Linked DNA regions of Homo sapiens. The protein of the gene in region 2 interacts with the protein of the main gene of each other region in a pairwise test. Each region holds a gene or a part of one and is shown on either strand. Other genes may lie near its edges.

The links. Proteins that work in one complex are often made in the same cells at the same time.
Region 1: the proteins of PARVG (region 2) and PDLIM7 interact in binary tests that used the Homo sapiens proteins (3 or more experiments, as listed by UniProt).

The regions. Positions count from the first base shown.
Region 1 is NC_000005.10:177,487,577-177,494,612, reverse strand, and holds part of PDLIM7 (PDZ and LIM domain protein 7), read left to right. Parts: intron 1-1,935; coding exon 1,936-2,087; intron 2,088-2,177; coding exon 2,178-2,208; intron 2,209-2,687; coding exon 2,688-2,806; intron 2,807-3,192; coding exon of another isoform or gene 3,193-3,209; intron 3,210-3,466; coding exon 3,467-3,603; intron 3,604-3,706; coding exon 3,707-3,743; intron 3,744-4,019; coding exon of another isoform or gene 4,020-4,116; exon of another isoform or gene 4,117-4,367; intron 4,368-4,581; exon of another isoform or gene 4,582-4,780; coding exon 4,781-4,842; intron 4,843-4,985; coding exon 4,986-5,220; intron 5,221-6,364; coding exon 6,365-6,545; intron 6,546-7,036. UniProt on the Homo sapiens protein: May function as a scaffold on which the coordinated assembly of proteins can occur. May play a role as an adapter that, via its PDZ domain, localizes LIM-binding proteins to actin filaments of both skeletal muscle and nonmuscle tissues.
Region 2 is NC_000022.11:44,204,898-44,208,978, forward strand, and holds the end of PARVG (gamma-parvin), read left to right. Parts: intron 1-859; coding exon 860-932; intron 933-1,419; coding exon 1,420-1,529; 3' UTR 1,530-3,572; downstream 3,573-4,081. UniProt on the Homo sapiens protein: Plays a role with ILK in promoting the cell adhesion and spreading of leukocytes.

The DNA.
Region 1 (7,036 bases), on a different chromosome or scaffold from region 2:
TGCTTCCTGCCCTCCTCACTCTGGGAAGGGAAGCCGTCCCCGCCCCCCACCCCCTCTCCAGGAGCCAGCTAGCTGCACCCCAAGACCCCCACCTCGGGCTCAGCCCACAGCTCCCAGGAGCCAGCCCTGTGGGCAGGGAGTGGCTGGGCCAGGTTTCCCTTCTACTGACTCACCATGACCTTGAGTAAGTCACTTCCCCTCTGGGGTGTCACTTCCCCATACACAGTATAAGGGGTTGATTTAGTTGGATTGAACTAAAGGTGAGGGAGTGGCTCAGGGTGTCTCCAGGTGGGCTGACCCCTCAGTTGGGCCCCCATGCTCAGCAGAGGTGGCCCACAGTGGTGGAGCCTTAGGGTCAGAGACACTTCCTGGCTCTGCCTCTTACTAGCTGGGTGACTTGAGGCAAGTTGTTTAACCTCTCTGTGTACATTTGCAAGTGCAAAATGGGTAAAATCCCAGATTACTCCACAAGGTTGTTGGAAGATTCAGTGTCAATATGTAGCATAGTTGGTGCTCAATAAACTGAAGCAAGTCTTCTTATCTAGCGAGTGAGGAAGGGGCCGCCGAGCTCTCTTAGCCTTCTGACCTCCTACGCAAGCAAGAGGTCATGTTGAGCCCAGCTCGCCTTTCTTTTCCCAGTGCTGTCAAGCTCTGTGCCTGGCTGCCCTGCCCTCTGACATCTCTCTGAAACCTCTTGCCTCCCCTCTCCCTGCCTCAGCTCAGTCTGTGCACTGACCCACCTGAGGAGCCTCCTGGGGCCACTGGCAGCCTGGACCCCCCCAGATCCCCCCCACCCAGTGAAATTGTCTTCCAGCACTGCCTCACAAAAGCCTACTTGATGCAGTGCCAGGCCTCTTGCCAGATGGCTGGGTGGTCCCTTAGGCTTGGACCCAGTCAAGCTGCCCTGCCTGTGTTGCTGGGGCTGGGCTAGAGGCCTGGAAGGGGTTTATCAGGGTCACCCTCTCAGGGCCTGGGAGATACCCAATCCCAGACATTAAAACTGCCAGTAGCCCCTCTACCTTCAAAGCCAAGTCCTGGTCCCTTCCCCTGGCATTCAAAGCCATCGTAAGTGAACTCTCACCCGCTAGGCAGCACACGCCATTCTCCTTTACCGAGGCCCACCGCTTCCTCAAAGTCATTCCTGATGGTCTCAGCTCATGCTGGTGGCAGCCATTTCTCCCAGCCTACTGTCTCTACTCATTGCCACAGGAACCAGGGACTCCCAGCTCAAGAGCCTGAAGGATTGGGGTCAGGGGAAATTGGCAGTCGAGGGCTTGGGAGTGACAGCCATGTATGGCCTACGAAGTCCCAGCTGTCAACTTAGGTCCCATTCAGGCAGTGTTCACAGGGAACCGGGAGATAACAGGGCCTGTTCCTGGCTCTCAAAGGGTCCCAGCAGACCCCTATAGATGGCCCCCGACAGGGTGCTGGGGGGTGAGAGGTCCATAAGAGCCCCCGGTGGTTTCGGGGAGGAAGCTGCCCCCTGCATGGGCCAGAGGGCATATCTGGTAGGTGGAGTGGCCTGGGCAGGAGGCCAGCAGGAGCCTCAAAAGGCAATGGTCCTCCTGAAACACTTGGGCTTTAGCCTGAGCGTGGCTGTTTGTGGACATCATAGCAATTTCTGGACTGTGGGGGAGGGTGGTGGCGGTGAATAGATAAGCATCGTGACTGGGGAAGCTCAGGTGAGCACCACCTGAGGGAGAGGGTCTGGCAGTGAATAAATAAGCAGTGTGACTGGGAAATTGTGAAGCTCAGGTGAGCGCCACCACCTCCTGGGTTGCTTTAGTGTCCAGCAGCTGCCTAGAACTATGTTGAATGAAGAGCTCTCTGGGTTCTGGAAGTGGGACAGCTTTGGGTGGGGCAGTGTTACCACCGTCAGCCTGGCTTGGGTCTGCAGGGTCCAGGGCCTCGGTCACTTTGCTTCTCTCTCCACAGCTCACTCCTGGGGGCAAAGCGGCGCAGGCCGGAGTGGCCGTGGGTGACTGGGTGCTGAGCATCGATGGCGAGAATGCGGGTAGCCTCACACACATCGAAGCTCAGAACAAGATCCGGGCCTGCGGGGAGCGCCTCAGCCTGGGCCTCAGCAGGTATGCGGGTGGACATGGATGGGTGCGCCCGCGCTGGCAGTGGGGATCCCTGCGGGCCCGGCCCGCTGTCACGCTTTCCTTCTCCTCCAGGGCCCAGCCGGTTCAGAGCAAACCGCAGAAGGTACGAGGCTGGCCGGGACATCCGGGCGGTGGGCGGTGTGGGCTTGGACGGCCAGGCCTGCTCGCCCTCCTGGCACATTCTCGGTACCCCAATCCCTGGCCGGGAGTGGAGGGCAGAAACCGGAGCTAAGGCGGGTCTAGGGCCCTGGAGTTGAGCCAGGGGCTGCTGCACGGTCCTGGCACCACGCATGTCCGCCTGTCTGTCCGCCTGTCTGTCCGCCTGCTGCCTCCCGCCGCCGGCGCTGCGTGCTCGCCCGCACTCGGTCAGCCCTCGGTCCTGCGTGGACTGAGATCGCCACTCCCAAATGGGCCCCTTGAAACCTGAGTCGTCCTCTCCCCGTAGCCTCCAAATAGATGTAGGGGGTGGGGTGGGGGTGGGGGGCTGGAGCTGCCGCTGTCCTCTGCTGCAGGCGCCCCACTTCCACCCAGGCCCCCACCTTACCCTGCCCGCCCGCCCTGCCCGGCTGTGTCTCTGCCCAGGCCTCCGCCCCCGCCGCGGACCCTCCGCGGTACACCTTTGCACCCAGCGTCTCCCTCAACAAGACGGCCCGGCCCTTTGGGGCGCCCCCGCCCGCTGACAGCGCCCCGCAGCAGAATGGGTACGTCGGCCCCTGCCCGCCCGCGCCCACGCCATCAGGCCCACTGTGGCCCCACGCCCGCTGCCCGCTGCTGCTCAGTCTGTGCTGCGCCCCAGCCCGGCGGAACCGTGCGGCAGCGCCCCCTGGCGGCCGGGGTGGGGCTGCAGGCACAGGGCCCCTCCCGAGGCTGTGGCGCCTTGCAGGGCACCGCCCTGGGGAGGGGTCTCTGAATGACGCCGCGCCCCCTGCTGGCGGCTGGGGGTTGGGTTGTGGTGTCGGGCCAGCTGAGCCCCAGACACTCAGTGCCGCCTTGTCCCCGGCTGTTCTGACCCCTCCCCGTCTTTCTTCCTCTCCTGTGTCTGTCCCTTTGTCCCTTTATCTGTCTGTCTGTCTTATTTCCTTCACAGGTGCAGACCCCTGACAAGTCAGTGAGCCCCCCTCTGCCTGTGCCTTTCTTCTTCCTTTTGGCACTCTGGGTGGCGGCCCCTCCCCACCCTGGCTGCCCTCCTCTCCACTTCGCCCTCCTGTCCTCTCACCTACCCGCCCAGCAGGGCTCCTGGCCTCACCCTTACCCACTCCCTCCCATCACTGTAACCCAAACCCACATGCACCAAATCCTGGGAGGGGCTGCCCCCACCGCCCACCCCCAGTGTGGGGTTCTGAGCCACACCCTCCCCACAGACAGCCGCTCCGACCGCTGGTCCCAGATGCCAGCAAGCAGCGGCTGATGGAGAACACAGAGGACTGGCGGCCGCGGCCGGGGACAGGCCAGTCGCGTTCCTTCCGCATCCTTGCCCACCTCACAGGCACCGAGTTCAGTAAGTGCCAGCCCAGGGCAGGGGGTACTTTCCTCGCCCCCAGCCCAGGCGTGATCCCTGACCCTGTGTCTTTTTTGGTCAATGCCTGCCTCTGCCCTCTCAGTGCAAGACCCGGATGAGGAGCACCTGAAGAAATCAAGGTACAGGGACGGGCACCAGCCCCTCTCCCACCTCCTGCCTCTTCCATTCCAGCTACTGCCCTGTGTCTACTCCTGAGGCTCCCAGCTGGGGCTCTCAATTCTCCCTTCCTTCCTTCCTTCCTTCCTTCCTTCCTTCCTTCCTTCCTTCCTTCCTTCCCTTCCTCCTTCCTTCCTTCTTTCATTTCTTCCCTCCCTCCTTCCTTCCCTCCTCCCTCCCTGCCTCCCTTCCATCTCTCCTTCCTTCCACTTCTTCCTCCCTCTCTCTCTGCCCCTCAGGGAAAAGTATGTCCTGGAGCTGCAGAGCCCACGCTACACCCGCCTCCGGGACTGGCACCACCAGCGCTCTGCCCACGTGCTCAACGTGCAGTCGTAGCCCGGCCCTCTCCAGCCGGCTGCCCTCTCTGCCTCCCTCTTTCTGTTCCTCCTGCCCAGGGCACCCCCTTAGTGCCTCCAGCTTCTGCCTACCTCACCCCCCCTTTCGTGCCCCTGGCCTGAGCCTCCTGCTGGCCTGGCCCTGGCCGCCCACCTGGGTTCATCTGACACTGCCTTCCCTCTTTGCCCTGTGGTACTGCTGTCTGCCAGGTCTGTGCTGCCTTGGGCATGGAATAAACATTCTCAGCCCTGCTTGCTCTGCCTGTCTTCTATCTTTGTGGACCTGGTTTGCATTTGGGGTGTGGGGGTGTTTCGTGGTTCGGACTGTTTGGGCCCTGCCGTCCTCGTTTTCAGTGGGAGGGGGTACCTGGCAAAGGGGCCCTGCCCTGCCATCACAGATGGCTTCCTGGCATGAGGGGAACCCCAGGAGCTGCCTCAGAAGCGGGAGCCCTGCCTCGTCTCCCAGCTAGAGACCGCACACCAGCTAACTGGACATTGCTAGGAGAAGCTGCCCTTCCCATCCCTACCCCAGTGGGACCTGGAATCCAACTCGGCAGTTTCCACGCCCCCAGTCATCTCCCGTGGGGCCAGCAGGACCCAGGTTGGGGGGTGGGGCCATGTCAGGAAGCTCAGCCATGCAGGGCCTTGAATGGCAGATCTTGCAGCCAGGTGCCCAGGACAGAAGCCCCAGCCCCAGCCTCATCTACACCCCAGGAGCCCTGGCCTGGTGAGAGGGAGTGGGCTCGGGCCTGGGCAAGGGTGGGCAGCCTCCAGGGGCATGGGGGTGGTGGGCTTCTCTCAGCTGCCTGGGGCTCCACCCCCGTCCTTTGGGGTCCCTGGGCACCCCTTTAGAGTCACTTTCCCCGGCAGGCCCTACCGCCCCCAGCCCTACCAGCCGCCCGCCCTGGGCTGTGGACCCTGCGTTTGCCGAGCGCTATGCCCCGGACAAAACGAGCACAGTGCTGACCCGGCACAGCCAGCCGGCCACGCCCACGCCGCTGCAGAGCCGCACCTCCATTGTGCAGGCAGCTGCCGGAGGGGTGCCAGGAGGGGGCAGCAACAACGGCAAGACTCCCGTGTGTCACCAGTGCCACAAGGTCATCCGGTGGGTGGCCTGTTCCTGTCCGACCCTGGCTTTCCCATCCTGCAGCCCAGCCCCACCTGTCTGCCCACCTGTCTTGCCTCAGCTGCGACTGGGGGGAATAAGGATTCAGTTCTCAGCTGGAGTAGGAGTAGGGACCTGGGCTGGGTCCTCCCATTCTTAATCCCACGCTACCTACCCCAGCCCACCCACAACAACTGCTAGCAGCATCTGCCGTGGCGAAATAGCCGAAGGGCCAACCATAGGCTGAAGCTGCACCCCTACCTTTGCTGCTCTCTGGGCAAAGAGGGGCCTGCCCCCTCCCAGCGCGTCTGCCCCTCCCTCCTGCTCTCTGTCTCCCTCTGCTCTCAGAGCATACAGGCCTGGAGCCACTCCCTCTGTGCACTGCCCCGTGGGGCCAAGCAGCATCAAACACCCCCCAGCATCAGCGTGCCGGATTCTAGAGCCTTCCTAATTCGCAGGCCTGGCCTGCTCTCATCTCTGTCAGCTCTTTTTTTTTTTTTTTTGAAACAGAGTCTCACTGTGTTGCCCACGTTGGCGTGCAGTGGCGCGATCTCGGCTCACTGCAACCTCTGCCTCCTGGGTTCAAGAGATTCTCCTGCCTCAGCCTCCTGAGTAGCTGGGATTACAGGCACCCGCCACCATGCCTGGCTAATTTTGTATTTTTAGTAGAGACGGGGTTTTACCATGTTGGCCAGGCTGGTCTCAAACTCCTCACCTCAGGTGATCTCAGGCCTGCCTTGGCCTCCCAAAGTGCTGGGACTACAGGTGTGAGCCACTGTGCCCAGCCGACTCTATCAGCTCTTGCCAGGTAGAACAGGCAGGCCAGCAGGACAGGGCAGCTCCAGGGTTTGCCCAGGGGCGGCTCAGCTTTTATGAGGCTCCAGTCGTCAGCCCTTCCTCCCGGGGTCCTCCCTGCTCTAAAGCTGCCTCTCCTGTCACCAGCAGTTCAGTGTGGCGGACTGGCTCTGTAAGCTTCACGGCTGCCACGGTCACTTCCCAAGCCTGTCTTCTATCCTATGTGGAAAATGGGGAGAATGAACTGTCCCTCCCAAGGCCTCCTGGTGGGTGGTCAGTCAACCTGAAGGGGGCCAAGACCCCCACCTCTCTGCGTGTGCTCCCTCTGACCGCTCTCGCCTCCCTGCAGGGGCCGCTACCTGGTGGCGCTGGGCCACGCGTACCACCCGGAGGAGTTTGTGTGTAGCCAGTGTGGGAAGGTCCTGGAAGAGGGTGGCTTCTTTGAGGAGAAGGGCGCCATCTTCTGCCCACCATGCTATGACGTGCGCTATGCACCCAGCTGTGCCAAGTGCAAGAAGAAGATTACAGGCGTGAGTAGGGCTGGCTGGCGGGGAGGTGGTCCCAAGCCTGTCAGTGGGAACGAGGGCTGCTGGGAAACCCACAGTCCAGGTCTCTCCCCGAGTGAGCCCTCCGGGTCCTTACCAGCGTAATAAATGGGCTGCTGTACTGGCCTCACCCTGCATTAGTCAGGATGCTCTTAACAAATGACCATGTTCCTGCTCAGAAACCGCCCAAGGCTGCAAAGAGCAGGAGGACCAAGCCAGGAGAAGCCCTGGGCCCTCCTGACTCCCACTTTGGGCTCTCCCTGCCCTGGTGAAATGACAGAACGGCCAACTTGACACGCTGAAGCTGCTCTGTCTCATGCGTCCTCCTCATTTCTGGATCCAGAGCCAGGGCTGCCAGGAGTAGCCAGAGAGCTCTGTGTGGTGATGTTCATATTAGTGAGGTTTACCTTGACCACGAGCAGTGGGAAACTCAAAATAATGGTGGCTTATTTCTCATCTAAAAACATCCCGGGGTG
Region 2 (4,081 bases):
CAAGGGAGAAGCTAGAATGGAAAGGGAGGGGACCTACTGTGGGAGGGCCGGCAGGCTCCTGGGCTCTCACCATATCCTGTAGCAAGGCACAGGGGAACTGTGGTGAGCCCACTTTGCAGGGGAGCAAGGGGAGGCCCTGGGCAGGGACTAAGCTGAGCTCTGAATCACTGGGGGACTTGACTGATGCCCGGGCGCTCTCCACCCTAAAGGGAGCCATCTCTGAGACTGCACCCCAGGCAAGGGGTGGCGGAAAGGACAGCCACCTGGGTGGGGACCGCTCCAGTCTCTAGCCTGCTTTGCATGAGCATTGGAGCGGACAGACCTGGTTTGAGCGCTTTCTGTCTCGTGAGCTCCAGTGAGCCCCTTGGCTCCTCTGAGCCTTGATTTCCTCACTGTGCTTTGCCCTGGGAAACAGCTGTTCTCAAAGGTGCTCTGCCACCCCAGGCCCTTGCTCCTTTCCCTGGGTAGTTCTCCCTGCCTGGCGGGACTCACCACCAGGCTTCACCTCCACCAGGAAGCCTTCCCTGATCCCTATTGGGTATCCTCCTTGGCGATTGCCTTTTTCACGGGCAGTGGCCCCTGGACGCAAGCGTGTGCCCAGTGTGGTATAGCACCTGCTCAGAGTGGGGCCTGTGAGTGGCTGAGGAATGAGACATGGATTGCTTGTGTGACAGAGTGAGCTGTAGGGAGATGCTGGATGACCACGGATTGTGGTCGTGGTCAGGGATGCCCACCTTGGATGGGAGTTTAGGCTCATGATGGACATCACAGACAACAGGAAGGGCTTGGCACTTGGGACCCAAGGCCTGGCCTGGGGCTGCTGCTTGTGCCCACATCTGATAGGGCCTTGTCATCATAGCTGCACAACGTCACCCTGGCGCTGGAGCTGCTGAAGGACGAGGGCCTGCTCAGCTGCCCTGTCAGCCCTGAAGGTGAGTGCAAGGCAGATGCCCACACGGTGGCCAGCCCTGGGTGGCAGCCTTGTGCGAGAGCCACAGAACAGGGTGCAGGGCATTGGGGGATGAGCACGCATTGGCAGAGTCCTCTTGCCTGGCAGGGGTGGAGAATGGGCGCTTGCCAAGGTTTCTTGGGAGGGGGCACTGCAGCCCCAGGGGAAGAGGTTCTGGGGAGGGGGAGACCAAGGTCTCTGGGGACAGGTTGTCCAGAGAAGCCAGACCTTGAGGAGTTGCTGTGTTGGGGGCACCACAGGAGCATTCAGAGGAGGACTGGCCAGGAGGAGGAGGCAGTCACGCAGCAGGCGCGGGACCCAGGCCTGGAGTGACCAGCTGTCCTGGCTTCCAGGGATTCTCCTGGGATTAGCACTGAAATCCTGAATGCCAGGAAACCTTGACCACATCGGGACAGTCGGTCACTGCCACCCAGGCCTGACTGGCTGCCCTGCCCTCCTTTGGCCCGCAGATATCGTGAACAAGGATGCCAAGAGCACACTGAGGGTGCTCTATGGTCTGTTCTGCAAGCACACGCAGAAGGCACACAGGGACAGGACGCCCCATGGAGCCCCGAATTGACCCTCACTGCCTCCAAAGCCCAGAGCCTGCCTGTCAGCCCAGCTGGAGGGCCCGAGGCTGCAGGGTGTCCTCCCACAGTCCCGCTGTTTCCTGTGCATTCGTGACCCGCTTCCCTCCCACCCTGTCTCCTGTCTCCATCGTTGGATTATCTTTGAACCCCCTTGTGTGGATCATTTTGAGCCGCCTGGCCTTGCTCAGTTTATTTTAATAAAAGTATTTCTGGGAGGGATTCTGGGAACTTGACAGGGTCCTGAGGAGGGCCCTTAAACCTGCAGCCTCCCTCCCATGGGGTGAGTGTGTGTCACATCAGTCTCTCATCTCTGGGCCCAGGCTAGTGACCGCCCAGAGAGGTGGCATCACTCAGGGCTGGGGACTCTCAGGGACAGGGCCCACAGCCCCAGACCCCACCTTTTCCAGCCCAGCTCCCCACACCCACCTGCTTCTCACTCGGGAGGATGGGCCCCAGAGTCACCCTCCAGGGCAGGAGCCCGAATGGCTCCATAGCCATGCCCCCACCCACCGGGAGAAGTGGATTCAGTGACTGTCAAAGCAACCCGGGCTGTGTCCTGCAGCTGCCCTCGTGAGTTTTGCCCAAAAGTCACAAAGAAGCAATCTTCGTGGTTGATTAGTGGGTTCAGGTCATCTCCAGTCTGTCCTCGGGAGCTGTGGGTTCCCACTCGCTCCAGTGAGACTTGGCATTTTCTGCACATAAAGAAGAGTCGTGTGGGAGAATTGCACATAGTCAGTCCAGGGCATCCAGAGTGGGGCAGAGCTGATGGCTGATGGGAACCGGGGAGGAGGCTGGCGGGGAGGGGTGAGATTGGTGGGGAGGGCTGGGGCTGGCCGGGAGGGGTGGGACTGATGGGGAGGGGTGAGGCTGGCGGGGAGGGGTGAGGCTGGCGGGGAGGGGTGGGACTGGTGGGGAGGAGTGAGGCTAGTGGGCGGGTGAGGCTGGCGGGGAGGGGAGGGTTTGTGGGGACGGGTGAGGCTGGCGGGGAGGGGTGAGGCTGGTGGGGAGGGCTGGGGCCTGGTGGGGAGGAGTGGGACTTGTGGGGAGGAGTGGGACTTGTGGGGAGGGGTGAGGCTGGGGAGAAGGGCAACCACAGCCCCAGGCTGCTGCTCCTCCCTGGACCCTGAAGAGGCCTCTGGGTCTGGGGTTTTCACAGTTTGACAGCTGAGGCCTTGGGGAGGGGCTTTAGATGGGGGTTAGGGGCTAGGTCATCATTGACACCCACTGGGGGCGCCTAGGCAGATGTCCTTCGGGGGAGCAAGATGGGAGCCAGGGACGCAGTGCCAGGTCAGCCCTGGGAGCTGGTGTCTGGGTGTGAGAAGGCCTTGAGGGGTCTTCCCTTCACCTAGCCTCCCATCTGCCTGCCCTTCTCAGCTCCCAATTCACAGGGCAAACCCAAGCCCATAAGCGTGTTCCACGTGAGCACTCAGATGCACCCCTCTTCATGGATACCCACCCTACTTCCCGGCTGCCTCTGGGAAACGTGCATCCTCCCACACCAGGTACCTGGAGCCCAGCTCCTTCCACCTGCTCAGGTGCCCCCTCCATTGCGATGCCCCCTCCAGCACCTCAAATCCTCTCCTGGAGCTTCTGGGGACACAGGCTCAGCCTCTCTCAGCTGGCTTCATCCCAAAAGCCTGAAATCCAGCCCCACTTCCTGGGGCCTTTGAGTCCTCACTTGCTTGGGCCCCATCCGCTGCAGGCTGGCTCTGCCTGGCTGTTCCACGTCCTCACTCTTGTTCTATTTGACAGCAATTAAAAAAAAAGTGACTTATTTAATTACTGTAGCTTTATTGAAAAATAACTTCCCAGTTTGAAGTGTACAATTTGATGAGTTTTGACAAATGCATGCAGTCATATAACCACCACCATCGTTATCCAGACATGGGACATTCCCATCACCATGCAAGTTTCTGCATCTGTCTGCAGCCAGTTCCCTTCTCCCAGCCCCTGGCCCTGGGGACCACTGATCTGTTTTCTGTCACCATCATTTAGACTTGTCTAGAATTTCTTATAAACTGTATCCTATGGTATGTTGCTTTTTGTGTCTGATTTCTTTCACTTAGCATAATGCTATTGAGAGTATCTCCATTGTTTCTTGTATCAACAACTCATGTCCTTAGTACATTCAAAAATAAGTCCTCCAATTTTGTTCTTCATTTCAAAAATTATTTTGGTTTTTCTAGGTCTTTTTAATTCTTTTGGTTTCTACATAAAATTTAGAATCAGTTTGTCATTTTCTGCAAAAAAGCCTGCTGAAATTTTGACTGGAATTGTGTTCTTTAGATCAAACTGGGGAAAACTGACATCTTAAAAATATTGGGGAGCTAAGATCACTGATTTGAGAATATTTTTCTTTTATATAAATATTTAATGCTGGATTTTTTTTTCTAAGCACAGCTTTAGCTGCATCCCACAGATACTAATATGTTGTGTTTTCACCTTCATGAAGTTCAAAATATCTTCTAGTTTCAAATGTGACTTCCTCTTTCACTCATGGGTTATTTAGAAGTGTATAATTTCCAAATATTTTGGGATTTTT